Linked DNA regions of Homo sapiens. The protein of the gene in region 4 purifies or fractionates together with the protein of the main gene of each other region. This does not show direct contact. Each region holds a gene or a part of one and is shown on either strand. Other genes may lie near its edges. The genes, in order: ATL2, IMMP1L, LCLAT1, TM4SF5, ATL1, NUS1 and SLC25A17.

Evidence for each region.
Region 1: the proteins of TM4SF5 (region 4) and ATL2 purify together in Homo sapiens (affinity purification with mass spectrometry; one large-scale study listed by BioGRID and IntAct). This does not show direct contact.
Region 2: the proteins of TM4SF5 (region 4) and IMMP1L purify together in Homo sapiens (affinity purification with mass spectrometry; one large-scale study listed by BioGRID and IntAct). This does not show direct contact.
Region 3: the proteins of TM4SF5 (region 4) and LCLAT1 purify together in Homo sapiens (affinity purification with mass spectrometry; one large-scale study listed by BioGRID and IntAct). This does not show direct contact.
Region 5: the proteins of TM4SF5 (region 4) and ATL1 purify together in Homo sapiens (affinity purification with mass spectrometry; one large-scale study listed by BioGRID and IntAct). This does not show direct contact.
Region 6: the proteins of TM4SF5 (region 4) and NUS1 purify together in Homo sapiens (affinity purification with mass spectrometry; one large-scale study listed by BioGRID and IntAct). This does not show direct contact.
Region 7: the proteins of TM4SF5 (region 4) and SLC25A17 purify together in Homo sapiens (affinity purification with mass spectrometry; one large-scale study listed by BioGRID and IntAct). This does not show direct contact.

The regions. Positions count from the first base shown.
Region 1 is NC_000002.12:38,374,214-38,378,930, forward strand, and holds the start of ATL2 (atlastin-2), read right to left. Parts: upstream 3,061-4,717; 5' UTR 3,048-3,060; coding exon 2,930-3,047; intron 2,318-2,929; exon of another isoform or gene 1,967-2,317; coding exon of another isoform or gene 1,903-1,966; intron 1-1,902. UniProt on the Homo sapiens protein: Atlastin-2 (ATL2) is a membrane-anchored GTPase that mediates the GTP-dependent fusion of endoplasmic reticulum (ER) membranes, maintaining the continuous ER network. It facilitates the formation of three-way junctions where ER tubules intersect.
Region 2 is NC_000011.10:31,460,916-31,464,956, forward strand, and holds part of IMMP1L (mitochondrial inner membrane protease subunit 1), read right to left. Parts: intron 2,391-4,041; 5' UTR 2,362-2,390; coding exon 2,257-2,361; intron 1-2,256. UniProt on the Homo sapiens protein: Catalyzes the removal of transit peptides required for the targeting of proteins from the mitochondrial matrix, across the inner membrane, into the inter-membrane space. Known to process the nuclear encoded protein DIABLO.
Region 3 is NC_000002.12:30,641,654-30,644,934, forward strand, and holds the end of LCLAT1 (lysocardiolipin acyltransferase 1), read left to right. Parts: 3' UTR 1-2,572; downstream 2,573-3,281. UniProt on the Homo sapiens protein: Exhibits acyl-CoA:lysocardiolipin acyltransferase (ALCAT) activity; catalyzes the reacylation of lyso-cardiolipin to cardiolipin (CL), a key step in CL remodeling.
Region 4 is NC_000017.11:4,778,121-4,782,161, reverse strand, and holds part of TM4SF5 (transmembrane 4 L6 family member 5), read right to left. Parts: intron 1,374-4,041; coding exon 1,293-1,373; intron 1-1,292. UniProt on the Homo sapiens protein: Acts as a lysosomal membrane arginine sensor.
Region 5 is NC_000014.9:50,629,104-50,633,144, forward strand, and holds the end of ATL1 (atlastin-1), read left to right. Parts: intron 1-891; coding exon 892-906; intron 907-3,125; coding exon 3,126-3,236; 3' UTR 3,237-3,942; downstream 3,943-4,041.
Region 6 is NC_000006.12:117,692,066-117,696,106, reverse strand, and holds part of NUS1 (dehydrodolichyl diphosphate synthase complex subunit NUS1), read right to left. Parts: intron 3,066-4,041; coding exon 2,940-3,065; intron 2,077-2,939; coding exon 1,927-2,076; intron 1-1,926. UniProt on the Homo sapiens protein: With DHDDS, forms the dehydrodolichyl diphosphate synthase (DDS) complex, an essential component of the dolichol monophosphate (Dol-P) biosynthetic machinery.
Region 7 is NC_000022.11:40,816,316-40,821,108, forward strand, and holds the start of SLC25A17 (peroxisomal membrane protein PMP34), read right to left. Parts: upstream 3,032-4,793; 5' UTR 2,934-3,031; coding exon 2,880-2,933; intron 1,063-2,879; exon of another isoform or gene 888-1,062; intron 1-887.

The DNA.
Region 1 (4,717 bases), on a different chromosome or scaffold from region 4:
AGAGAAAGCCCTCGAGTGTTGTGTATCATGTGCTGTGTGGAGGACTAACGGATAGGAAGAAAACTACTAAAGTAATGAATTCACTGTGGAATCAAGTTCAGTTATTCTATGTTCACATCTACATTCCTTAAAGTAAATAACTCTCAAATTTTCTAGAAAGTAAATAATACACCTGGACTTTGAAAACCCAAAATGTCTACAAAATCAGAATACCATTACACGTTAAAAACAAGAAAGAAAAGAAGAAAGCTGCTTCCCTGCACCTATCTGGAGAAAATCTTTGCGCTGTAAAGCTCTAAACCACCATTACCAAAAAGTTTAACTTCTACTCCTATGCCTTACATTTCTGGCTCTTAACTTTTTAAGGGCCTGACAAACAGCTTTGCTGACAATTGTGTGTGTCAAACAGGTCTTCCAAATGACCATCAACAATTTTTTAATACATCTTGCTATGAAGTCCCAAAATTTAAAAAATATATGTTGAACTCCATCCAGCATTATCAAACTAGTTAATCAGTCTCCCCGTACTCTTAGCAGCTAGCTGCCTAATACCAACTGTGGAAAAAGCCTAATTTTGGAAAAGGTCTAACAATTTCAAGAAAGTTACTTATACTTGTGAATATTCCAAAACTTTAAAGTTACAATACAGTCACAGAAAAACGAATCCTGAAATACACCTATGTGCACTCGACTTAAGGCCATAATCTTATTTTCACTCAGGGTTTCTTTTCCCTATAATATCTTTACTGTAAGGCAGCTACTTCTCCCTAAATAATTTCGAAGAATTTCAAAACACTTTACTAAATAGATTTAATCATATCTACAGAATCCTATCAACTTAAAAAGCCAATAAAATGAGTACTTATTTGCTTTCTAAAGATCCTACATTCCTAAAAGAATAAACACAAAGCCTCTCCCTAACACTAAACTACTCAAGTGACACTTGACCCCAACTTGGTTTTTGAAGCTATTTCTCCAGGAAGCAGAGGGAGACAAAGAGTTTCTACACAGTCAAAAATAGATGAGTCCTTTTCATTCAGTCTGTTTCTTCTCACTTTAAACACAAATCCTACCAAGCTCATTTAGTTTTTAACTCATTAATGAGTGACTCGGAGCAAATTAGCAGGTACAGGGACTGTTTTAGGCAATCATTTGCTAGGAATGGCTATCAAGTGAAGGTCTTGCTGATCCGTCCTAAAAAACAAAGGACAAAAACCTATGAGTAGCAGACAAAAGCATTTATTAAATAATAAATGGTGGGCCCTATTTCAACAACAATCTGAAGAGTATCATCTCTTCTCAAGATACCACAGCACAACAACGTTCACAACCATAACTGAAGTATAAATTTATGTTTCTTCTAATAAGGTAAATACATAGAATATTTTGAAACTGCATCTAAAACTCTTACCTCAAAAAAAGGAAAGAAAGAAAGAGAAAGAAAGAAAAGAACACACACTTCTTCCCCTAGGGTCCAACCAAAAGAGCGAAATTAATCCATCCGCATTCCAAAACAATTAATTACTTAAGAAATCCAACCAGCACACATCTAAGGCGAAGCTGCTTCTTTGGTAGTTTTTTATTCTACAGAGTGCTACCACTGTACAAACAGTCAAGCGTTTTGGTTGGCAGACAATAATAAAATAAGCTTTATTTCCTTTTCTTCTTCCCTTAGCAAAACTCCAGTCTGTCATCACCTCTGACATGCGCCAAGAACTACCAGGAATGATGAAGTATATTTCAAATAAACTTTCCTATTAAAGTGAGTCCTTGTGGTTAACATCATACCAAAATGCTTTACATTTTATCCAGCAAAACCTTTACACACCGTAAAAAAAGAAATCTTAAGACACGAGCTCGTATCTGTATTTAATAATAAACTCTTATCTTGGCCGTACTTACCAAATCGTAGGCTTTTACTATTTATAAGCCTTTGAAAAAACTTTATGCCTTTCTTAAGTACCATCAAAATTTTCAATCAGGATTTCATGCGATCAATTCGCACCACAGTGAGAGATCAAACGCTAAACTCCTATAAATAGGGGTGTTATGAGTGAGAGGGATACACTGCGCTGCCAACGCAACTGCGTCTTCGAGGGGGCAGGGGCGCTCCTGGTACACGTACAGTAGGAGCTCACATTCAGCAAAACCAGGGAGCCAAGGATCAGGTGACTTCACACTACAGACACTTTCAGAGTGATCAGGCCTTACTATCGTCCAAGTGACTCGTAAACGGCTCATAACCCCAGTTTGACACGAAAATCTAGACTTGCACCCTAGCCACGCACAACCCGCGCGAATGGGTTCGGGAGCCGAGGAGCCCCGAAACGCGAGCCCGGGGACAGAGCCCTGGCCTGCGGACTGCGGTTCCCTCCAGGAAGGGTGTCTAAGGAGCTTTCGGACCCGGCAGCAAGGTGTCTGCTCCCCGCGCGACCTCCTCCTCCGCGGGGCCCATCATGCCCTGGCCACCCCTTCCTCCCTGTCCGCGTAAGGGACAGCGAACGCCCACCAGCTAACGGGTCGCCCCGCCGCGTCCGGAGCTCGCCGGACGGAGCGGAGCCGCAGCCGACCTCCCCGCGCCCCGGGCAGGCGGCCACGGCTCAAGGCCGCCCCCTAAGGTCGGGGCGGACACGGCGGCAGCCACGCGGCGGGCTGGCGGGCAGGGGGCCGGGCCGGTCGCAGACGCGCGCGCCACTGGTTCTCCCAGCAGCTACTGGAGCCGCGGCCCACGAGCCGCCCTTTCAGGCCGCGCGCTGCGGGAGCGCGGGGCGCGGCTGAGGCTAGGCCCGGCGGGCAGGCGCGGCGGCGGGAGGAGACCTGAACCAGCCGCGGACTCCGACCCCGCCGCCTGCGGCCGGTGCCCGCGAGCCCGAGCAGCGAGCGTCTCTCCCCATCAGGGCCCCGCGGCCTCTGCCTCGCTGGCCCGTACCTAGGGAGGTCGTGGACGAGACGTGGTTAACCGCGGCGCTTGGGTCGCTGGTCCGTCGCCGGCGCCACAGCCCCTGGTGCGGTTGCTGCCCTCGCGCTGCCTCGTCCCCCTCCGCCATCTTGTACCGATTTAAAATTAACTCCCCACTGACGTCAAACGCCGCCGCCGCTTTATCAACCTCCCGGGAGCCGGCGGGGTGGCCGGCGGGTCCTAGCGCCGCTCTCCGCCTGTATCTCCTCGCCCTCCGCCTGTATCTCCTCGCCCTCCGCCTGTATCTCCTCGCCCTCCCTCCGCCCCCGCCCCGCCCATCGCTCGCTCGCTCCGCCCTCGCCCTGCCCGCCTGCAGATCCGTCTCCCCGGCTCCAAGTTTCTGGTTGGACTGGGGCGGGGGTGTCCCTGCCGCCGCCGTCTCACACCCCCACCTCCCTGAGCTCAGCACCACACCCCCTTAGCGCTGGGCCAGGCTCTGCAAACGCAGAAGGGAGCTCCAGAGAACTAAGTCCCTCCCTCCCAATTCGCTTTACATCTCTAATCGTTGATTCGTGCGTCCTGCACGTGAGGTGGCTTTCGCACCCCTTCTCTCCTTTTCATCGCCCCCTCCTCATCACAGCCATTCCCCTCCTCTCTCCCCATCCACCCCCCAAGTTGTTGCCAGTGCCCTGCTTTTCCTCTTGATCTTTTCTTTCCTCACCCAAGTCCCTACTGTTGCTTCCCCTCCCCCCCACCATCCTAAGGTTTGTTTGCATTCGCTCCCCATCTACTTATGAGACCTTCCCCCATCTTCTCAACTGTGTATACCCTGGCCCTGTGCTCCTAGCACCTTGCAGAGGCATGCCAGAAAGCACTCTAATCGGAAAATGAATCGTGGCAGGTTCTTACCTAATTGTGATGAACCTTCTTCTGGGGATCCAGTGACATCCAGTAGAAAGTTCAGGTCACTTTTTAAATTACAAGTCAGCCCGTGGAGGCGTCTGTGAAACATGATCCCTTTGGATTTTTACCATACTGCCAGCTGCATTAGAAATTCCTCTTCTCCAGTAAAAACAGATGTCCGGGTGTACAAACAGCTGTTTTGTCCAGGTCTTTTCATAAGTCTAAAATTCACAGCATGCACAATCTCTAGAAAAGCACTGGTGTTATTAAAGCTTTCAAAATACCATTCTAGGTAGGGCATGGTGGCTCACGCCTCCCGGGTTCAAGCAATTCTCTGCCTCAGCCTCCGGAGTAGCTGGGATTACAGTCCCCCGCCACCACACCCTGCTAATTTTTGTATTTTTATAGACACGGGATTTCACCATCTTGGCCAGGCTGGTCTTGAGCTACTGACCTCGTGATCCACCCGCCTCAGCCTCCCAAAGTGCTGGGATTACAGGCGTGAGCCACTGCGCCCGGCCCATCCAAATATATTTCAACAGAATATGGAGTTTGTCATCATTGTCACATAAATCTAGGAGAATAACTATATACGTGTTCTTGGCAATATTCTTTGAGTTACTAAGATTCTAGTTCTGGGACTTGAACCACCTCCACAATCTAAAGTACAGTTACCCTTCCCCCTCGTTCATATTGATGGCAGGATCTTTATCAACTTGTTAAGTGATATTCCTCTTACGTCCTTGTGATATATGATTTGGAGAGCTCACTTTGTCAAGACATTTTCTGTTTTATCATTGGCCTGAAAAACGTAGTATTGAAAAGGAAGAAAAAGAAGAAGCAGAAGCAGAAGAAGGAGGAGGAGGAGGAGAAGAAGGGCAAAAAAATCTTCACGAGGATTGTTCTACAAAGATT
Region 2 (4,041 bases), on a different chromosome or scaffold from region 4:
ATGGATTATTGCTTTCACATTATAATGCCTGAATAAAACAACATTACCTATGTTTCCAAATTTAGGCCACCCTATAGAATCTCAGTTCTATGAAGGCAGAGATCTCTCTCATGTTCCTAGCTATATAACCAAAGCCAAGAACAATGTTTGGTACAAAATTGATAAACCATACATATTGGTTGAATGAATGGGAGAATAATACATTTTCTTATTACTATCAGATATAATCCAGTGAACATGATGATGATTTACTAAATGGTATTATACTATTCTCAGTGAGCTTATGCCCATCTTCCTCTTCCAAGAGAATAGCTTACTCATTTCATGGGGCTGCAACTTAAATGTTCTACTGAAAAATACTAGCATGATGAGATGGACTTTAAAGATTTTCATGGCCAGGCATGGTGGCTCACACCTGTAATCCCAAAACTTTGGAAGAATGACTTGAGGCCAGGAGTTCAAGACCAAACCTGGCAACCTAAATAGAACCCATCTTTACAATGAAGCAATTAAAGATTTTCCTATTTGTATGTCTCAAAACAATAATCTTGATATATACAGGTTGAGTGTCCCTAATAAAAAATCTGAAGTCTTAAATGCTCTAAAATCTGAAATGTTCTGAGTGTCTACATGACACCACAAATGGTAAATTCCATACCTGACCCCATGTGATGCATCACAGCCAACATGCAGTCAAAATTTTTGTTTCATGCACAAAATTCTTTAAAATAGTGTATAACATTACCTTCAGGCTATGCATATAAGGTACATATGAAATATAAATGAATTTTGCGTTCAGACTTGGGTCCCATCCCCAAAATATCTCATTATGTATATGCAAATATTCCAAAATCCAAAAAAATCTAAAATCCATAACACTTCTGGTCCCAAGCATTTCAGATAAGGGATACTCAAACTCTACCTCAGAATCAGAAAAAACTATCATCGCCACTTTAAAAATCTAAATCCGACAGTCTCCATTTACTCTATTTGTAAATAAAACTTTTTACTCAAAAGTTCCTACTCAGGCAGAAATAGGAGGAAATACAATTACAGTTTGTTTGCTACCTTTGGAAGTACCAATCTAACTTACAAAAAAATCAAGAAGGCAAGTTTCAGCCAGGTACAGTTGCTCATACCTATAATCCCAGAACTTTGGGATGCCAAGGTAGGCAGATCACCTGAGGCCAGGAGTTCGTGCACAGCCTGGCCAACATGGTGAAACGCCATCTCTACTAAAAATACAAAAATTAGCCAGGCATGGTGATGTGCGCCTGTAGTCCTAGCTACTTGGGAGGCTGATGCATGAGAATTGTTTTGAGCCCAGCAGGCAGAGGCTGCCGTAAACTGAGATCACTTGATTGCACTCCAGCCCAGGCAACAGAGCAAGACCCTGTCTCCAAAAAAAAAAAAAAAGAAGGGAAATTTCAGTTAAATATATATATTTCCATTACTCCACCTTAACTGGAGGTTATGTGACTGTCAATCTGATAAAGTAAACCTAATTTAAAAAAAAAAACAGTAATAACAACAATAAAAAAAATTGACTGGCTGGTCAATCAATTTATTCTTTCACTTACATGACAAAAGGCTTGAATCAACAGCCACAGTTTGTAGTTTCCCAATATAATATTAAGAAAAAGTATTAGTTGGGGATAGGGAAAAACTTTAACATTTTAATATAGACATTAGGCAGAATAATCTGTCTTAATTACAGATGATTAATTTGTTTTAATTACAGTTATTGTGGTTATGAGCTGGAATTTTGAAAACTGGACAAATATGTGTTGAAATTTCAAGTTACTTACTAACTGTGGGACCTGGAACAAGTAAATTACTTAAGCTTTCTCAGTTCATTTCCTCATGTGTATAATGGATTACTAGTAAGTATCTCAAAGAAGTGTAAAAGATTAAATGAGTTAGTAAGTGTAAAACATCAAACATATCCTGAAACACAGTAAATAGGATTCAATAAATGGTAATGACTATTATTGTTATACTATTCAAAAGGACCCTTTGTGCCCATTAGAAACAGAATACAGAAAATATTTAAGTAATGGTCCTTATACCTTCTATCAGTGCCAATTCAAACACACTCTCTTATTATTCCAATATTTAGAAAGATTTTATGTTTTAACTTTCACAGTTTAGTCATTAAATAACTTCAACTAGGTTTTCAAAAGGAAAAACACACTTTCCTTCCATTTGAAAGAAAGTATATATTTAAGATGAATATTCTTGAACATAAAAACTTACCATGACAACACCACCAACGTATTCAAAAGCACAATGAGCTATACAGCCATATTGAATAGTATAGCCAACAAGTCGAAAGGTTTTCCCCAGAACACCACGAAGCATAGTTCTATGTAGACTCTGCCACCATTGGCCTGATGGTAAATTTCAAAAAGTTTCATGATCAATACTATTTAAAAACACTTAAGAAATAACTATTGTAAAATATTTTACAATCACCCAAAATGTACTAAGTGCCTAATACAATTTGGTGCAGGAAACCAAGAGTTTGTTATCAGTTCTAATGATATTTTAAATGGCAAATTGTAGCCACTAAATATTTTGATTTACCAAAGTTTATATTCAAATGTCACTGGGTCTACATATGAATTATATAATTAGTAGATTATAAACTAGTCTGTCCCCTTCCATGTCTTGGTTGTTTCTTCTATTAAGGCAGATGCTTAAAAAAGATAGTAACTCTTTCAAAGGACTAATAAAAGTTCCTTGCTATATATTACTTCTTGCCATGTAATAGGAAATAATGGAGAAATCACTAGAATAGGAATATGGAGATTCAAGTTTCACATTGGTTATTTTACTAACTTGTATAATCTTCAACAATTACTTAACCCTTCTGGGGCCTAGTAGAAATACTCTCATAGAATGATTATTAGAATCAAATTCAGCAATGTATGTCAAAGTACTTTATAAAAAGATACACTCATTTGTGAGCTATTAACTACTGATGTAACAAAAGGAACACATAAATACTATGAAACAACAGCATAAAGAACCATTTAAAGATTTTTTAAAGCTATATAAAATTTTAAAATATTGTTCATCTAAAATATTTCTAATATCTGTCCTTTACTATTTAACTGTTACAACTATGTATCATGCATTTCTTAACTAATAGCCTAACTCTTAGGCCTAGGCTACAATATACTGTTCTCAGATCAAATTTATTAAAATATATCGATAATAATATGTAACATCTGCTTAACATGTCAAGATTTACATATACTATCTCTGTAAGATAGATATTATTACCATCCTCAATTTATAGACAAGAAAAAAAAAGCCTAAGAGTAGTAAAGTAACTTGCTTATTATCATCACAAAGTTGGCAAAGGATGAAGCCAGTAATAAAAGGTCTCCCAAAAAAGAAAAGCCCAGCATCAGATGGTTTTACCTCTGAATTCTACCAAACATATAAAAAAGAACCAACACCAATTCTTCTCAAACTATTCCAAAAAACTGGAAATTGAGGGAATTCTTCCTAATTCATTCTACCAGGTCAGCATTGCCCTAATGCCCAAACCAGATGCAGGAAAAGAGAAACTGTAGGCCAAAATCCCCAATGAGCTCAGATGCAACAATCCTTAACAAAATACTAGCAAACCAAACCCAACAACGCATTAAAGAGATAATATACCACGATCAGATGGGATTTATCCCAGGGATGCAAGGATGGTTCAACACATGCCAATCAAACAGTGTGATATATAGCACATCAACAGAATGAAGAACAAAAACCATACAATGATCTCAATAGATGCAGAAAAAGCATTTGATAAATTTCAACATCACTTCACGATACAAACTCTCAAGAAATTAGGCAAAGAAGGAACATACATCAAAACAATAAAAGGCAATATATGACAAACCCACAGCTAATATCATACTTAATGGGGGAAAAGCTGAAAGCCTGTCCTCTAAGATCTGGAACAAGACACGGATGCCCACCTTCACCACTCTTATTCAACATAGTAACGGAAGTCACAGCCATAGCAATTAGGCAAAA
Region 3 (3,281 bases), on a different chromosome or scaffold from region 4:
CTTAAAACCAAAATGAAACACAAAAATTAATCCTTAATAATGATAGCAAGTGATCTTTCTTTTTAGTTTTAGCCTTCCTTTTTCAATAGTAATATTTAAACCCACTTTTGACCAATTGTTTGCCCAAATATTCTTGTCATTTGGAGTCAGTGGAAAATCCAGCACACCAAGCACCAGTCTTCTTCTGAGGCAAAAGAAAAGTGTTGTCATTTTCACTCTGTTGGAGCTGCACACTTTTTTTTCTTTTTTTTTTTCTTTTTTTTTTTGTCGTGTAAGAAGGATGCTGGTCAGAGCTGCAGAAAATATGAGGCAATTAAAAGTCTTTAGCTGTTAGCAAACCTGTTAGTTTTACTTCTGCATTGAACCAGCCTCAGAAGCTACTTACTGCTTTATGTACTCTTTGGGCATTAATGCCTTCTCTGTAATTATATCTCGTTTTTGCTTGACAGTGACCTACCCAATAATTGCATCGTGCATTGCCATGAAAGGTAAACACATTGTGAACTGAACTTACCAAGCAGATTCTGTGAGAAAGCACTGGTTGAGGCTGAACACTGTTGACACATCATTTTTATTGGAAGAGTATTAACTGGTGCCTCTTCTGAAACACACCAACCCATATTCCTCTGCTCCCCCAAAGCTGTTTCTGATCCTGCTGGGAGCAACTAACTAGTTATTATGCACATCTGCTCCAGACCCAGCTCTTTAACTTCATGGTTTTACAGCTTGTTTTTTCTTTTTCTTTTCTTTTTTTTTTTTTTTTTTTAAAAAAGCACCTTTTTTTGTTGTTTCCCCTTAATAAAAGAGGTTTCTAATTTATGTTTCTCTAAGATTTCCTTTGGTTGTATTTAGAAACACAAATAGTTTTATAATCAGGATTGCATTTGTGCTGGGTAAAAGAGGAGAGCTGTGCTTTCTACCCCAAAGTTGTTGGTAATGGAGCCGGTCTGCCCTTCCTACAAACTCAAGAGGCTCATTGTTCAAGGTGTAACAACATTTAATTGCATGTCCTCTAACGCTTTGAAACCTTTAGAGGGAAGATCCTCATTTTTTACAATTTTGTTCCTTTTCATCATAGAAAACATGTTTAAGATAAAATACAAACTTTACCTACCCCAAATTCATAAAGTACATTTAGTGCTGTATAGCACTAAAACTTAGAGATACAGACACTGTACTTACTTTTTAAGAATTAGAGACAGTAACTCCAAAAATAATTGTCCTTTTTTCTTTCTTTCTTTTTTTACAATAAGGCTCTTGAAAATTGTCATTACTTGTGTTTTCCTATACATTCATCTGTGTGAAAGCCTTTTTCTTCTTTGATTTAAAAAAATTAACTATACAGTTAATGGTTTAGAACTTAGAACTACTTAGAATTAATGCTAAAGTGTCAGGAAGAAATTAATTTAGCTTCAATAATTGTGACTGGCCTCAGGAATTCTCCCTTCCACACCTGCCCACCTCACCTCACTGCACCGCACCGCACCAGAGCCAGAGCAGCTGCTTGTCTGCAGCAGGACACAGTTCCTACATACGTTTCAGTTCTTTCATGGTAAGCTCAATGGACTTTGAATTGTTTACAGTGCTGTATGTCCAATTGTTAAATGTACCATTCTGAACGATGTTAAAGCAAGTGTGGTTTATTTATGGCATGAACCATGTAACTTGAAATATGAACTTACAAGGAGGGGCACTCATTAGGTAACAAGTTCTTACACCAAACTTCCTTGATGAAATAAGCCAAAATAATCCTAAAATTCATTAGAAGAACTTGATAAAAGACTCAAATAAATGTTAGAAAGAGCCCGTAATTTTAGGACTCCTATAAAATTCTTCCTTGTTTGTTAATGCTATTAAAACTCAGATTCAAGGGAAATACCAGCTTCCACTTGAGTCACTTTGAAATAGTTAATTCAACAGCACCATGTTAGAAATATATTGGCAGCCAAGACTCTGAACTCTGCAGAAACATTTGTTTCACCCAGACTTCAAACTCTAGCCCTGACTATGATGCCCCTGTGTGCATTTACAATAAAGACTCCAACGGAGGGAGCCTGTTGGTGTTAAATTGTTTACATTTCTTTATACAAATAATGTGCTTTCAGTGCCTTAGTTACAGCTCCCTTTCTGTTTCTTGTTCCAAGGATTCTGTAGTATGTAGTGTGTTTCTTAGGTAAAGTCTCTTTTTGCTACTGAAAGGGAAATGGTCTCTAAACACTGGTCACTGTAGCAGGTAAACACTACTCTAACGTGGAGAAATGAGCTTCATGCTGAGGTAGTGGTTGCCTTAGAGCTGTTATTTATGCTGTAGAAAACGAAAATGGTTTTGCTACCTGATAAGCTTCAGATTAGATATAGCCCTAAAGTTATCCTGTACCTGCATTAAATTTTCATTTTAGAAGAGAATCTTGGTTTTGGTAATTCATTTTTTTTTAAGATCATTATGTGCAAAACACCAAGTTTTAAAAATAACTCACAGAATGGCCTTAGTTTTCAATGTCTGATGGTATATTTGTGAGTTGTGTTATCTGTAATATACATCCCAGAATAAAGGAGTGAATTAAATAGTTTACATGTGTGTTACGTTCTGTTTTTGCAGGAATAACAAGTAACTGCAAGTTAAGGTGCTACTTTTTTCCCCACAATGCCTTGCATTGCAGTGTCTAGTGTTAAGGAAAAACCTGGCCAGTTAGGTCTCTTTTTTCCACAGATGTCAAGAAAAGTGGCCTAATCAAGAAAACAATGTACTACCTCCATAATAGGAAAAGTCCAGGCACCACAATTGAATTAAGGACTCAACGAATGTCATCAGAACTTGATTTTCCTCCATCTCTTAGCACAGCCTTGCTATTGAGAACAATTTGGTTGTTCCACAAATGTGGGATCTTATATAAATATCAGCATGACCAACTCTTACCTAAGATAAGTGGGACTCTGTGCTCCAGTCCCTGACCTCACGTTGGGGAGTATATAACTATAAAAGCAAATCTTGGACCAAAATCTGACAAATGTATAAAAATGTGCTTAGCAAACAGACAAACACATGAGAATCACGGAGCCTCTTGTAATGGGGCCTTCTGCAATGCCCCACTCTGTCTTCTCAAGTGAGCACTTTGTGTGATAGATTCATGTGGAGGGGAGTCCACAACGTTGTTCCCTGGGAAAGGGGAATGCAGGACCAGAAGAGCACAGACCCGGCCCCAAGAGCGCCAGTCCCACAGACTGGGACATTGGGTTTGTGGGACTCCTGTCCTCCGTTTAAGCAAAAGGAAGAGAAGGGT
Region 4 (4,041 bases):
TCGCACCACTGCACTCCAGCCTGGGCGACAGAGCCAGACCCCGTCTCAAAAAGAAAAAAAAAAAAAAAAATTAGAAATTCGGACTCTGTTTCTGCACCTGTCCTTGCAGAACCACAGCACTCTCTATGGAATTCCTAGCTACACAAGCTCCTCTGCGGACTCCCAGGCCCCACCCCACCCTTCCCTGGCACCCACAAATCTCAGATCTCAATGATCCTGAGGGGTAGGCGGGTGAAGGGGAGAGGGGGGAACTACAACCCCAGTGAATCTCGGCGGCCGCTGGCTTTCAGGTTAGCCTAACTGCAAGCCCGGGGTTTGAAGGGAAATTTATTTTAAACCTGACTCGAGGCTGGGCACGATATCTCACACCTGTAATCCCAGCACTTTGGGAGGCCAAGGGGGGCAGATCGCCTGAGGCCAGGAGTTTCAGACCACTCTGGCCAACAGTGAAACCCCGTCTCTACTAAAAATATAAAAATTAGCTGGGTGTGGTGGCAGGCGCCTGTAATCCCAGCTACTTGGGAGGCTGGAAGAACAAGAATGGCTTGAACTAGGGAGGCGGAAGCTGCAGTGAGCCAAGATCGTGCCACTGTACTCCAGCCTGGGTGACAGACCAAGACTATGTCTAAAATAAATAAGATAAATAAATGTAAAATAAAATAAAAATACATTTTTTTTGAGGCGGAGTTTTGCTCTTGTTGCCCAGGCTGGAATGCAATGGCACAATCTTGGCTCACCGTAATCTCCTGCCTCAGCCTCCTGAGTAGCTGGGATTACAGGCGCCCACCACCACACCAGGCTAATTTCTGTATCTTTTCTTTTCTTTTTTTTGAGACAGAGTTTCACTCTTGTTGCCCAGGCTGGAGTGCAATGGTGTGATCTCGGCCCATTGCAACCTCTGCCTCCAGGGTTCAAGTGATTTTCCTGCCTCAGCCTCCTGAGTAGCTGGGATTACAGGTGCCCGCCACCACGCCTGGCTAATTTCTGTATCTTTTCTCTTCTTTTTTTTTTTTTTTTTTTTTTTTTAAATCACTGCTTACTGCAGCCTGGACCTCCTGGGCTCAAGCGGCCCTCCCACCTCAGCCTCCCAAGTAGCCGAGATTGCAGGTGCTTGCCACCACGCCCGGCTAATTTTTGTATTGTTAGTAGAGATAGGGATCTTGCCATGTTTCCTGGGCTGGTCTAGAACTCCTGGCTCAAGCCGTACTCCCACCTCAGCCTGCTAAAGTGTTGGGATTACAGGCATGAGACACCACCCCCAGCCCTGAATTCCTTCTTAATCTGGATCTTACCCTGCAGCGGTTTCCACAGCACCCAGCACCACAGCAGCCCTTGCCCCCTGCCCGAACGGCTGCAATCCCCGGACACAGTACCTGTGGGACAAGAGTCATTGTTATAGCACGTCCCCCCAGATCCTCCAGGCCTGACTTGCATCAGTGCCTACCTCCTTCAGGAAGCTGCCTGTGATGCCTTCAGCCCTTTGGACTGTAGAAGACCTTATCTCTACGTCTCCTGGAGCTGCTGGGCTTCACCTTACTTTATCCTTATTTACGTGCCTACCTTATCTCTGTCCAGATTGTGGCCTCTAGAGGGTAGGGCCCAATATCATTATTTTCCCCAATCTTGGCACATAGTAGGTGCCCTACTGAATGGAAATCAGGGAAACTACTTCACATGCTATGAATTGATTCATCTCTCAGGGTCTCAGTTTTGCCTGTATAAAATGGGTCTGGAAGATCTACCTCACAGGTCTGTTCTCAGGATTTAATGGGAGAACAAGCTGACTAGGTGTTAAGACTGGCTCAGAGGCCGGGCGCGGTGGTTCACGCCTGAAATCCCAGCATGTTGAGAGGCTGAGGCTGGTGGATCACCTGAGGTCGGAAGTTCAAGACCAGCCTGACCAACATGGAGAAACCCCAACTCTGCTAAAAATACAAAATTAGCCGGGCGTGGTGGCGCATGCCTATAATCTCAGCTACTCGGGGGGCTGAGGCAGGAGAATTACTTGAACCTGGGAGGTGGAGGTTGTGGTGAGCTGAGATCGTGCCACTGTACTCCAACCCGGGCAATAAGAGCGAAACTCCATCTCAAAAAAAAAAAAAAAAAAAGACCAGCTCAGAGTAACTCAATATTTATAAGTTCCCTCAGCAGCAGGAAGGGATAGAGGTGTTGGAGTGTCTGGTGAATTGGGATTACAGTAGAGTGTGGAAGAGTGCTAGTGGATGGTCTGATATGGAGTGTAGCATTTTCCAAGATTCAAGCCTTGGTCTTTTTTTCTCCCTGTGGCTTTCCTAACAATGCCCATCCCCTTTCAGGGAATCAGCTCTTCACTCTGCCAGAAGTTGCCTCCAAAACTGATGCCTCCAGATCCTATGTTCACTTGAATATCTTGGTTTTAGCTCAAATTCAACCAGCCTCACGCTCATCTCACAATATTCCTCAAATTCATCTCCCTTTGACTTTCTTGTCTCCATCAGTGGAAAAAATAACATCTACTAGGTCAGCCAGGCTGGAAAGCTTTAATCTTGCACCCAGAAAGACATCAAATTTTCTCAACTTTTACTTAAGTGGCTCCTGAATCTGTGAGTTCCTCCCCACATTGAATCCCTCATCACCTCCCATGAGGGTGTTCTCAGCCTCCCTATTACACTCTCATAGCTCTTGCCCCATGCCACCCTACACTCTATCCTCTATCAGGTTAAACATAGCTTTTTTTTTTCTTTCTTTCTTTTTGAAACAGGGTCTCACTCTGCCACCCAGGCTGGAATGCAGTGGCTTGATCGTGGCTGACTTTAGCCTTGACCTCCTGGGCTCAAGTGATCCTCCTGCCTCAGCCTCCTGAGTAGCTGGTATCGCAGGCATGCGTCATCATTCCCAGCTAATTAAAAAAAATTTTGTAGACATGGGGTCTTGCTATTTGCTCAGGCTGGTCTTGAACTCCTGGGCTCCTCCTGCCCTGGCCTACCAAATTGCTGGGATTACAGGTGTAAGTCACTGCATCTGGCCTAAACATAGCTTTCAACTGGTCTTTTCTCTGCTCAAATCCTTTAGGGTCTCTTCACAGAGAAGCCCATCAAGACTGAACTCTTTTTTTTTTTTTTTTTTTGAGACGGAGTCTCACTCTGTCACCAGGTTGGAGTACAGTGGTGTGATCTTGGCTCACTGCAACCTCCACCTCCCAGGTTCAAGTGATTCTCCTGCCTCAGCCTCCTGAGTAGCTGGGACTACATGCACATGCCACCACGCCGGGCTAATTTTTTGTATTTTTAGTAGAGACGGGGTTTCATCATGTTGGCCAGAATGGTCTTGATCTCCTGACCTCGTGATCCGCCTGCCTCAGCCTCCCAAAGTGCTGGGATTACAAGCGTGAGCCACCGCGCCTGGCCAAGACTTGTAACTTGAACGCCTAACTCTTGTAAGGCATTTAAGCCTCCTCATCTGGCTCCGTTACCTTTATCTTCGTTGCACCAGGTCAGGTTCTTTGCCTGTCTCCTATCTCTGGAATTCCACAGCTGTCTTGCTTCTTGCTTTCGTGTGTGTGTGTGTTTGCTTTTTGAGACAGGATCTCACTCTGTCATCCAGGCTGGAATGCAGTGGTGCAATCATGGCTCACTGCATCCTCAACCTCCTGGGCTCAAATGATCTTCTCACCTCGGCCTCCCGAGTAGCTGGGACTAAAGGTGCGGAACAACATGCCTGGCTAATTTTTTTGGAGAGTTCATGTCTTACCATGTTGCCTAGCTGATCTCGAACTCCTGGGCTCAAGCAATCCTCCTGCTTCAGCCTCCCAAATTGCTGGGATTACAGGCATGAGCCACTGTGCCTGGCTCCTCATGTGTCTTATCTGGCACATACCATCCAAGGCAGCATTTTGTGCTTCTCCAGGGAAAGGGCTGAGAGTTTCAGTTCTATTATATCATCCCCAGCAACCTCAGAGAAACACCTGCTCTCTCTTCTTCCTGTCTCATGGCAGGGCCAGGACCCATGCTGACACCTTACTTTACCTCCCTGGTTAGGTCACTTACTGGAGGCTTGTGGATC
Region 5 (4,041 bases), on a different chromosome or scaffold from region 4:
TCTCATATTTACAACCTATGATTTGATTAGCATTAGCTTTGTTAGGAGCTATCTGAACCACTATCATAAGTTGTCATATCATTCTCTTTTTTAGTTAAAAACTTCCAAAAGCAGTATCAGATTACTTCAGATTGTCTCTGTACCTGTAGGCAGCAGGTAATAGCTACAATTCTTCCAGCATTAAGAACATACTTATGGCCAGGTGCGGTGGCTCACGCCTGTAATCTCAGCACTTTCCGAGGCCAAAGTGGGCGGATCATCTGAGGTCGGGAGTTTGAGACCAGCCTGGCCAACATGGAGAAACCCCGTCTCTACTAAAAATACAAAAATAGCCAGTCATAGTGGCGCATGCCTGTAATCCCAGCTACTCGGGAGGCTGAGGCAGGAGAATCGCTTGAACCCAGAAGGCGGAGGTTGCACTGAGCCGAGATGGCACCACAGCACTCCAGCCTGGGCAACAAGAGTGAAGCTCCATCTCCCAAAAAAAAAAAAAAAAACCCTACTTATATATACTTTATAACATAATTGTAACGTGCCTTTGAAGGATCTAGCTGAGATAAACTAGTGGTAGCACAATGGGAAATGAATGAAGTAAAAACTGGATCCTCTGAGCCACTTTCTGAAATAGTCCCTCAACCACAAAAGATTTAAGAGGGGTTGAGGTCAATGTCAAAACCCTCCTAGACTTATGTTATGCTAAAACCTATGAGGAATACAGAATTGAGTTCTTCAAAGATTCTGATAAAATATGTAATCTAAACTGAAAAATCTGCAGGAGTATCTGTTCTGAAATGCTCACAAATTAATATTGTAAGCAAAGTTGATTATAATGCTGTTAATAAAGCAGGATATATACTTTTCTTTTTTCTTTTTAATCTGCCTTTGCCACAGGGAAGTACAAATGAGGTAAGTTAAATTTTTTAAAATTCAGAGCTATGTATGTGTAAACATTATGATATTATTTTATAAACTGACTAAGCCATTAAAAGATGTCTTTATGTAGATTAGAACAATCTTTGGTGACTTCTAACATTTAAATTTGTAATTGTGAATTTTTAACATGGTCTTAAAATATTTAACTTTTTCTAGACATCATGTATGATTTGATCTACACACACACAAAAACTAAGAATTGAATATCATCAGTATTTGTTTCATGAATGTGTAGAAAACTTCAAAATTCTTAAGCTCTGAAATGGTGGACTCTGCTGTACTGCAGAGTAAAGCAAGCAGTTATGAAACCTGAGGAAATGTAACTACTGGAGGGTATTTATTTAAATGTAGCTACAACCTTTAGAAGTTGTTTTCAACTTTGGCTTTTGACTGACAGTAATACATACCACTTTAAGCAGGGCCCAGGCCAGTATGTATTCTTTCTTGGCAGACCTCAGGCCTGACCTGTAAATTAGTGTTCATTTCTCCTACCGCACATGTGCAACACTACATATCTCAGAAAAGACTCTAGGCATCCACGAAGGAATCATCTGTTACACTAAGAAAAATTACCACTCTGGAATCATTTAGGTCATTATCTTCAGGAAGCAAAGCTGATCTTGAACAACTATAGAGATAATTCTTTCCTCAGTTTCTACTGTGGCATATAATTGGATTATGTCCTCGAATCAAATACCATTTACTATTTACAAGTCAATAAGAAGTTATTTTATGCAAAATTCAGTAAGCAAGTTCATTAAAAAAGCAAAAGCAAATTTCAGCTTTGTAAATCAAAGCTTAAGAAAAAATATAAGAGAATTAGAATTAAATTGAATGCCTTAGAATCAGAATATAATGGAAAACAATACTATGTTGCACCAATATACATTCACAGATCTGAAGATGGTACCATACAGACGTAATGCCATAAGAAAATCAAGGCCAGGCGCGGTGGCTCACGCCTGTAATCCCAGCACTTTGGGAGACTGAGGTGGGCGGATCACGTTAGGTCAGGAGTTCGAGACCAGCCTGGCTAACATGGTGAGGCCCCATCTCTACTAAAAATACAAAAAATTAGCCAGGTGTGGTGGCAGGCACCTGTAGTCCCAGCCACTGGGGAGGCTGAGGCAAGAGAATAGCTTGAACCTGGGAGGAGGTTGCAGTGAGCCAAGATCGTGCCACCACTGCATTCCAGCCTGAGCGAGAGAGTGAGATTCCAACTCAAAAAGTAAAAAACAAAAACAAAAACAAAAAAAAACCAGATCCAAAGAAAGTAGGTATAGACTCACAAATGATAAAAATTAATGGAATTTCCTGGGAACAGATTACTATTTAAAGGATCTCAAGCTTTTATGCAGCTTTTAAAAATATTCAAAGACTCTTTACGAACTCCAGAACTAAATCAGACAAGTCATTTGTAACTGACTGTCAAGTATGTGAAAGTCAGAGGAGGGGATGAAATCTTAGACACTAGCTAACGGGGCCAGGAAACAAAGATATCTATGAACACTTATATAAAGCAATATACAATACACAGAGATTCCTATGATTCAAACATCATTAAAAACCCACAGAGAACAATAAGAGGTAGTTTTAAATGAGGAAAGCTTGCTGAGGTAATGTTTTTGAATAAGGTTTGTAAGATATTAGCTAAGTCACGGAAACAAGGCAAGAGCGTGTAAAGTGAAGGATCCTACTGTGCTGGGGGAAGGACACCATATGTGCTTAGCTGCATGACTGTATCAGTAAATGATGGAGAATAAAATTGGCCCCACTCAGGAAAACACTGGAAGCCCAGAAAGCAAGTAGCCTAGCTATGCATAATAGTTACTGCCAATCAGAAGTTATGAGGTCTTACAATTCATCTAAAACTGCTAATATTCACAATTTGAATTTTCAGCACACCCCTGGGGCAAAGTAGAAGCTCACTGCTCCAAGAGGTATGCAAGGTAAAAGGAAACACAGTTTGAGAATAAAACATTCACCACACAGGTCAACACACAAAAGTGTTAATGCACACATTGAGGAGTTGAAAATACTTTTGAATTTTAAGATAATAATTTATATATCGATTAAAAAAGATTTCAAATTCAACATGCTAAATTTTATACAGTACGATAAACTAAAAAGGAAAAAATTTTACATCTGTGTGTTTAATAAAATGTTTTATAATTTTGATGCTTTTATTCTAGGCTTTGTACAAGCTTTACAGTGCAGCAGCAACCCACAGACATCTGTATCATCAAGCTTTCCCTACACCAAAGTCGGAATCTACTGAACAATCAGAAAAGAAAAAAATGTAATGCAAATTTTAAGAAATACAGGTGCATGACCAATTGTCAATTAAATATTCAGTTTTATGTCTCCATGCAAACATTCAAAGTGCTTCCATCAGAACGGAGTAAAATACTAAACACCTCTGAAGACTGCAAACTGGATTAGTTCTTTTACTTCAGTGTTTAATAAGCAGATGTATGTATGCATGGTTATACTATTTTGTTAACATGTACAATTTCCTGATTTTTCTTCAAAAATGCTGTTATAAAGTATTTGTCTATTTATGATAACAGTACACGTGTTCTGCTTGAATTTACTAAATTCTACTACTGGGTTATAATTAAATCATGTGATATTCCACGTTTGGATATGCTCATTTAATTTCTACAGAAAAAATTTTAAATTATTTCACATTAGCCATTTGTTAAAACACAGCATCATAACTCAGCAGGCTGGATTTAATCTGTATCATCTTATATATATCACAATCTTATTTTTAAGCACATTTTAGAGTTCCTTAGTTGCTTTATCAAAAACCAGATATTGCTTTTACATGGTTTAATAGAATATAAACCTCTTGATAAAAAATGCACAAAAAATCACTTTGTATATGTGAGTTTCACTGCATTGTATATTTTTTCATTTGGTACACAAAGAATGTATTCTTCATAGGTTTATTCTTTTAATATGTGAACTATTATTAAAGTTTACTCTGGTTCCTAAGATTAAAAACAAATGCTTACTGAATTTGAAAATGAGAGGTGCTGATATAGAATGATGAAGGTTTATCTCTTTTTTTAGACTCAAGATGCATTTTATTTAATGTTGACA
Region 6 (4,041 bases), on a different chromosome or scaffold from region 4:
TTCTTTTTAATTATTTCACTCTCTTTGTTAAATTTATCTGATAGAATTCTGACTTTCTGAATTCTTGAAAACACACAAACATCCACACAAAAACTTGTACACAAACAGTCATACAGCATTATTCAAAAACTGGAAACAAACCACATGTGCATTAACCGATGAATGCATAAGCAAAACGTGGTATATCTAGAAAATACTACTCACCAATAAAAAACAATGAATAACTAATGCATTTTACATAGATGAACCTCAAAAATATGGTAAGTAAACAAAGCAAGACATAAAAGACTATATATTGTATGACTCCTTTTATATAAAATTTATAGAAAAAGCGAAAGTATAGTCAGAAACCAGACCAGTGGTTGCTGGTTTAGGGGGCAGGAGTGGGGACTAAATGCAGTCACAAAGGAACTTTTGATGGTGATGGTATTCAGAATGCTTGCCTCTGTCAAATTAATAAGTTAAGAATTGTGTACATTTTCATTTATCCTAAGCTTACAATGCCTGAAGGCAACAACTGGGCTTAATAAACATTAGCGCTTTCCCATGGACTACCTGAAGGTCATCTTTGGATCTCCATCAACTTTTAGAATGTCCTTATGAAATTACTCTCTTATTAGGGTCTCATAGGGTGCAGGAAACAGTCAACATCCCAGTAACATCTGAGCAGAGAGGCCCCATAATGGTCTACTACTCACTGAGCCTGAATATAATTAGGCAATGACAGGGTAGGGTAAGAAGCAAGTAGTCAACAAAAGTAGGAAGTTAGCGAAACCAAGAAGTGGGAGATGGACTTTGCTCTGTGACGGACACATGTCAAAGTGGAAGAAACAAAGAATGGAGAGTTAAGTAAATAAGTTAAGATAGAAAATGCATTTCTTTTTCTTTTTTTTTTTTTTTTTTTTTTTTTTTTGAGACAGGGTCTCACTCCGTCACCCAGGCTAGAGTGTACTGATGCGATCTTGGCTCACTGCAACCTCTGCCTCTTGAACTCAAACTATACTCCTGCTTCAGCCTTCTGAGTAGCTGGGACCACAGGCGTGAGCCACCATGCCTGGCTAATTTTTTATTTTTTGTAGAGATGGGGTTTTGCTATGTTGCGCAGGTTGGTCTCAAACTCCTGCGCTCAAGCGATCCACCTGCCTCAGCCTCCCAAAGTGCTGGGATTACAAGTGTGAGCCACCCCATCCAGCCTGAAAATGCACGATTAATAAGTAAATGGATAGTCTAAGTAATAAAAAATGAATGAATGTCTAAAACTGTATGCCTATAGAAGCTATTAATGAACATGAATTTACTAGAGAGATTGTCTTTCTTCAAAAGGATCAAGGCTAATGCTAGTAAGCAAGAAGAACCATGACATTATGGCAAAAAGGTCCTAGAGGGAATTCTCTAGACAGAATATGCAAACCAAAGGCTTATTTAAACAGCTGAAGAAAAAAAGTTATATTTGGTATAACATGACAAATACAGTTGTATATTTGGTATAGCATAATAGAAAGAATAATTAAAAAGGAATCATGGTAACAGTAAGATTATATTCCTGGGATCACCTCATAAAAAGATTAAGTTCAAAGTTAAGGGAAAGTTCAAACTAAAAAGAAAGGGGAAGAGGGAGAGGAAGGCTAACAAGCAGAAGTCCTATTTTCAAGAATATTCATCACTACAAAAAAGATCCTCAAAGGTCATCTCCTTTACCATTAAATCCTCATGCGAGTGAGTGGCTACAAATTTCATTGTCTCGAAACCATTTTTACATAGGTCTTTAAATTTCAGAAATTTAACAGGTATTAACAACAAAAGAATCAGGCTTTATGGTGTGAAAGAAACAAAAATATTTTCTTTCATACTGTATCCTCGTGTGACAAAACTAAACACACACACATACATATACATATATATGTATATATATATAAAAAAACTTACTAAGTAAACTGGCTAACGTATCTACATCCAAATCTGTGGGTCTCTTTTGCTTCTGGGCTACTAACTGGCAAAAGTCCTGAGCAGCTCTTACAATATCTGCTTTTCCATCTTCCGGAGACAGCACCTTCACTGCCAAATGGCAATTTAAAACTGGAAGAAAAAACAAACAATGTATTTTAAAAACACTCTCTTCCAGGTATATTTCAAAAGCAGTTTTAAGAAATACAAGGTTAAACCAAAATAAACATACAGTTCTTACAGTAAACAAGAATTTTTTAAGCCCTTCAATTTCAATATCAAAACATACTTAGCTATTCTCCTCTGAAAGGATCCATATATCCCAAATCACATCCATGTATATATTTATACACTGCCTTCTTTTCAAAGTGTTCAGAATGACTATACATTGTGACTACATCCTCTAGAAAACAGAAACTTTATAGGCTAGCTAACAAATTTTCACGCATCTAAAATTTCCTGTATAATTGCGATATCGTTAGCAGTAACACAGAATAAAAGAAAAAATAAAGACTAAGAAAAAACTGTTAGAGTGGAATATGCATTGCCTATAGCATACATACCTTTATCAATTCTACTTTTATAGGAGCTATCTTACAATTGATGGGATTCTCAGATAACACTGCAAAATTCTTATCTATAGACATGCAAATTCTTTCTTGTCCAGCAAAGATTCAATTTCTTTCCTCACTCCATAGAACAACCAGTTGTACCTCTATTTATATATTCATTTCAATATCTCTACAAATGTGTCCATTCTATGGATTCTCTGTGGAACCAGTTAAAAAATTTGCCTGGTTAAATAAAATCCTTATCATGTGTTCACTTTTTACCAAGATTAAGACGAGAAAGTCTAAATCTGATGATTAAAGATGTTGACAATAAAGAGTAACAGAGCAACGTGAATGAATAAATGACAGAGTAACAGAAATTGCCATGAAACACAAAACACACATCTTCATATGTTACATGTTCAATTATACACTCATGCTTACCTTGATCATCTTTGTCATTACTATTTGCAAATTCTGGTGAGTATTTTGAACAATCTAGGCCCAGAAGTTCTTGCTGTTGTTTTAAAATTTCATCCATCAATCTGGAATTATTTCTTTTGAAAATACCTTTAAAAAAGAAAAAGGCAAGTAAAACACAACTAGGTTAATTTTTCCTCTTCAAGTGAATGCTTGCTATGAAAACAACACTAGATCCAGAACTAAACGAATGTCAAACAAAGCTGTAATGACTAGTCCTAAACTAGAATCTAAAAGGAAAACATGACAACAAAACTTTGTTAATACAAGAGTCTGGCTTCCAGCAAAAAAAAGAACAGAGGTAACTACTTAAGTAGTGGCATGTGAATATGACAGAAATTTAGACTTAGGAATTTTAAGAGATCACTTACTTAAAATCTTTATGGATTCAGAAACTGAGGCCTAAACTCTTTAAGGTTCTTCTCCAAGAAATTATAAACTGCAGCAGTGGTCTAGAGCCTGTTATGTTCCTCACTCACAGTCTAATGTACCTTTTCTGCAGATTTACTACTTGTATTAAATAATCTTGCCTCAATTTGATTAGTTTTTTAAATCATAAGAGGAAGTAATAAGGATTACGTAAAAAGAGAACAGAAAAACAATTTAGTAAATTTAAAACAAAGCACAGAAATAAAATACAAAGAACAATGTATGGTCCTCTATGCAGGGAAAAGTTAACACTGTTAACTACTGTCATGTTATTGAGAAAGATGAGAAAGACAAAGGAACTATGTGACATACATTTAATGTAAAACTAGTAAGAGCTCTGACTAAAAAAAAAGGAACAAGTCTTTGACAATTTGCAGAGGCAGCTTTCTAGTAGCCATTGCCTTTTTAATCTTTATCAAATGTTCCTACTCTGCACTCTCAGTCAGGCATGACTTTAAAGTAGTTTAACAAAATAACTGGGAGAGAGAACACAGGCTAATATATACACATATATATAATAAATATATACATATAAAGCTGCTTAAATCTTTTCCATCAAACCAGTTCTCTTTGTAGAATTTCCAACTTTCTTGTCCAGCAAAGATTCAATTTCTTTCCTCACCCCATAGAACAACCA
Region 7 (4,793 bases), on a different chromosome or scaffold from region 4:
CTCTCTCTATAGCAGGAGTCAGAAAACTATGGCCTATGGGCCAAATCCAATCTAATATCTGTTTTTGAAAACAGTATTTTATTGGAACACAGCTCTGTCCATTCATTTACTGTCTACAGCTGATTTCACACGACCATGGCAATGTTGGGTAGCTGTGACAACGGTACACAAAGCCTAAAATATTTCCCATCTGCTCTCTTTAAAAAGTTTGCCAATCTCTATGTTCTTTTATAGCACTTAACTGTATCTAAAATTATTCTACTTATTTTTTATTTATTCATTTATTTTTTATTGTTTTTTTTTTTTTTTCTTGAGACGGAGTCTTGCTCTTGTCACCCAGGCTGGAGTGCAATGGCACAATTTTGGCTCACTGCAACCTCTGCCTCCCAGGTTCAAGTGATTCTCCTGCTTCAGCCTCCCGAGTAGCTGGGATTACAGGCGCCCACCACCATGCCTGGCTACTTTTTGTATTTTTAGTAGAGACGGGGTTTCACCATGTTAGCCAGGCTGGCCTCGAACTCCTGACCTCAGGCGATCCGCCTGCCTCAGCCTCCCAAAGTGCTGGGATTACAGGCGTGAGCCACCGCACCCAGCCTATTCATTTATTGTCTGACTCCCCTATTGCAATGCATAGTTCATGAAGAAAAAGACCTTCTCTACTGTACTCCTTGCACCTAGAACAGCGTGTGGCACATAGAATGCACTCAATAAAGGTGTTTAATGAACATTTATTGCAAGAAGGAAGAGAAAAACATTTCCCATCTTCTCACTTTCTTCTCTTAGATGCACTCCAACTATTTCCCCCACCACTCCACCAAAACTGGTCTTTTCAATTAACCACTGGATTTATCAACATGATAAATTCTCAGTTATTTCTCAGTCCTCACCTTACTTGACCCATCAGCAGCATCTGACCCAGCTGGTCTACTTCCTTCCCCAGAAACACTTTCTTCACGTGGCTTTCACTCTTAGTTCTTAGCTTCCCTCCTGCAGTACTGATCCATCCTTCGTTTGTCTCCTTTGCTGGTGCAATCTTATTTTCTCGGCCTCTTAATGGTTAGCCTGCTCCAAGACTCAGTCATTGAGATTCTTCTGTCAGTCCATACACACTTCCCTAGTGAGCTCATCTAGTCTCACGACTACTCTTAGGCATTTCAAACTCCTCCAAAACCAAAGCCAAATTTATCATTTCCCCCAAAACCTTCTCCTTCACAGCCTCTGCCATCCCAGTAAATACCACCATCCCTCCAGTTACTGAAGCCAAAAACTCTTGGAGTCAACCAACCCTCATTTTATAAATATATTCCAGGTCAATGATCACTTCTACCATGTCTGCTACCACCCGGATCCAAGTCACCATCATCTCTCGCCTGATAATTGCTTGTCCCCTGTTCCCTTACATTCTACTCTCAACACAGCAGCCAGGGTGATCACGTTTAAAGGTAAATCAGCAAGTTCAACAGCTAGCCAGAGTGAAAGTCTCACACAATTTGGCCCCCTGAAACCTATTTGCCTCTTTGTTCCCTCCACTCCGGAAACACAGGCCTCCATGCCCATCTTAAAGCAAGTCACGCAAGCGTCCATCTCAGCCTTCATGCTGGCTGAAAGGCTCTTCTGGCTGAACTGAATGAACCAGGCTTCCTGAATTAGGCATTTTCATGAAATGCTGTGTCACTTAATTCTCTAAACTCTGTGAGGTAGGTATCACTTCCCCCACTTTACAGATTAAGAAAGTAAGGTTTACAGGGCATCTAGCTAACAAATGATGGAGTTAGGGTTAAATCCAGATTAGTCTACAGAGAAGGTGAGCTCTCAGTGAAGTTTCTGGAGGCTAAACAGAGGATTCAGTGATGTTCCTCTGAAGTCACAGTGATTTTAACAGCTAAAGGTGTGTGCTAACAACTGGTGAAGAATATGAGAAAAGGCAGTCAAAGAGATAAAAGAACCACAAGAGGAGTCACCCAAGCCAAAAGTGGAAAGTTTTAAGGAAAAGAGGGGAGAGGGGAAGTGTCAAGTGGAACCTAGACACCAGAAGCCCAAGAATCAAGCGTATACCTCATAACAAACCACACTTGTGGTAGACAGGAACCCAGATCTTGATTTAGAAAGAAAGAAAAAAAAGCCAGGCACAGTGGCTCATGCCAGCAGTTTAGGACGCCAAATCGAGAGGATCGTTTGAGGCCAGGAATTCGAGACCAGCCTGGGCAACACTGCCAGACCCCAAAAATTTTTTTTAAAAATGTAGCCGGGTGTGGTGGCTCACACCTGCAGTCCCAGCTACTCAGGAAGCTGAGGTGGGCGGATCGCTGGAGCCCGGGAGATCGAGGCTGCAGTGAGTCGTGATCGCGCCACTGCACTCCAGCTTGGGCAACAGAGCAAGACCCTGTCCGGAAAAAAAAAAAAAAAAAAAAGGATCTATCTTCTCCTGCCAATAACGGTGCCCAGAGCTATCCTACTAGGTATTGCCACTTGCCCGCGGCAAGCGTGAAGACAGGCTGTAGGGAAGCATGTGACTAAGCAACACGGCTTCACACCTACGTTCTCCTCCGGGCCAGTAAAGCAAAGTGTGTGAGTGTGCGGTGGTAGCCTGACCTTAAACTTCCCACGGCAAAGATGCGGACCCTGAGCGGGCACGTGTGAACACGGCTCTCTACCCCGCAGTCTCTAGGAGACCAGGAGGTGGCGGAGTCTCGGCCCTTACCCCGAATTCCTCCAACAACTTTCCGCCAATGGCCCATTCCTCTCTGCCCCACAGTCATGACAGTGGACCCCAACCCACACTACCTCCCTCTCAGACCCATCCCTCAGGCATATCCCGGGACTGGCCCCCGAGAAGCCTTATAACCCGTTGCGGCCCGGGCGTAAAGACCCCGTCTCACCACGGCTCCGGCCACGGCGTGGACCAGGCTTTCGTAGGACAGCACGGAAGCCATTGGTGCGGCTCCTCGAAGACCCAGCCACACTTTTCCCACAGATGCCGCAGCCAGTGGAGTTAGGAAAGGAGCACCGGAGCTCAGGGTGTGAGAGTCGCAATCCCCGCCCTCTCAAACCCGCCCGCCTGCCCTAGAACCACTTCCGGGTCGCGGGGCGGGAAAGCGGGGGGGGGGGGGCGGCTAAGAACGCCCCTGAACGCTGATTGGCCCCTGTGGGCGCGGGGCGGGACAGCGAGGTGTTCGCGGGGCTGGGCTCCAAGGCGCAAGGCGGCCTGACACCAGGTACCCGGCTCCCGGTTCCTCCGACGTTCTCTGGCGTTCCCGGGCCCTGACCAGTTCCTCCATCTCAGAAGTCTTAATGGCCTTCTTTTACTCTGGTGACAAAGATGGGGAAACTCAATGAGACTCCAGTCTCCCTGTTTCTCTGCGCCTGAGCTCTTTTCTATTCTGAAAGTCACATTTTGGCCAAGAGGAAAAAAACTCACTTGTGGACTTGGAAACTTCTTCCTCCAGAAAAACCCTTGAGTGTGGTGGGAAGAGATGTTGAGCATCAGGAGCCCAAAATACAAGACGCGAGTGGGAGCCTCCCCCTAGTTGGCAACTATGGAAGTCATTTAACCTCTTGGGTTTCCTCTGTGAAATGACAATGTACTAGTACCAACAATCCCCATCTGCTGTGAGGATTACGAAAGCCAATTTATGTAGTAGTACTTCATAAAATACTGAAGGAAAAAAATTTTTTTCCATGTTGCAAAGTGACTAACAAAATTACACAAAACTAAAGCAGCCACATTCAGCTTTAACCTGTCATACTGTGAGATTCTGCTTCAGGATGCTCCTCAGGGACTCAGGGATTCTTTCCTGAGACACCATCACCACTTGTCTTTACCATGTTTCCTTTTAGAATATCCTCGTGATAACTCCTCAGTGCTGACTACATGCCAGGCTTAGTGTTTTATGCCCATCATCACACTTAATCCCTGGGAGAGGGGTCTAACAAAGTTTAACCTGGCCGTTTTCACAAAATTTGCAGAAGATACTGCTTCCAGGAACATTCCCATCACGCCATAGAATCATGACGTGAAAGTGAAGGACCAAAAGTGAAGCGAAGATGATTTTGGGCTGGGCGCAGCGGCTCAGGCCTGTAATCCTAGCACTTTGGGAGGCCGTAGCGGGCAGATCACTTGAGGTCAGAAGTTTGAGACAAGCCTGGCCCATATGGCAAAACCCTGTCTCTATTAAAAATAGAAAAAATTAGCCGGACATGGTGGCACGCGCCTTGTAGAAATTACAATGTTGAAACTGCAGCTACTAGGGAGGCTGAGGCAGGAGAATCGCTTGAACCCAGGAAGCAAAGGTTGCAGTGAGCCAAGATTGCACCACTGCACTCTAGCCTGGGACAGAGTGAGACTCCTAAAAAAAAAAAAAAAAAGATTATTTTGGCATGGGAACATAGAAACTAGTTGGCTGTAAAACTTGAGAACTCAGTTCTCATTGACTCCTGATCAAATTGGGAGCTTGCTGTCAAGAATATACTGGATTATGCATCATAGTTATGAAAACATTGTTAATACTTTGTTTTGACGTTTTTGTATCTTACATACCAAAAACATTTTGATCAGCTTTTTTTTTTTTTTAAACCTGAGACAGTGTTTCTCTGCGTTGTCCAGGCTGGTCTTGTACTCCTGGGCTCAAGTGATCCACCTGCTTCAGCCACCCAAAGTGCTCGTATTACAGGCATGAGCCACTGTACCGGGCCTTGCAACCTTTTTTTTTTTTTTCAGATGGAGTTTCACTCTTGTGGCCCAGGCTTGGCTCACTGCAACCTCCGCCTCCCGGGTTCAAGTGATTCTCCTACCT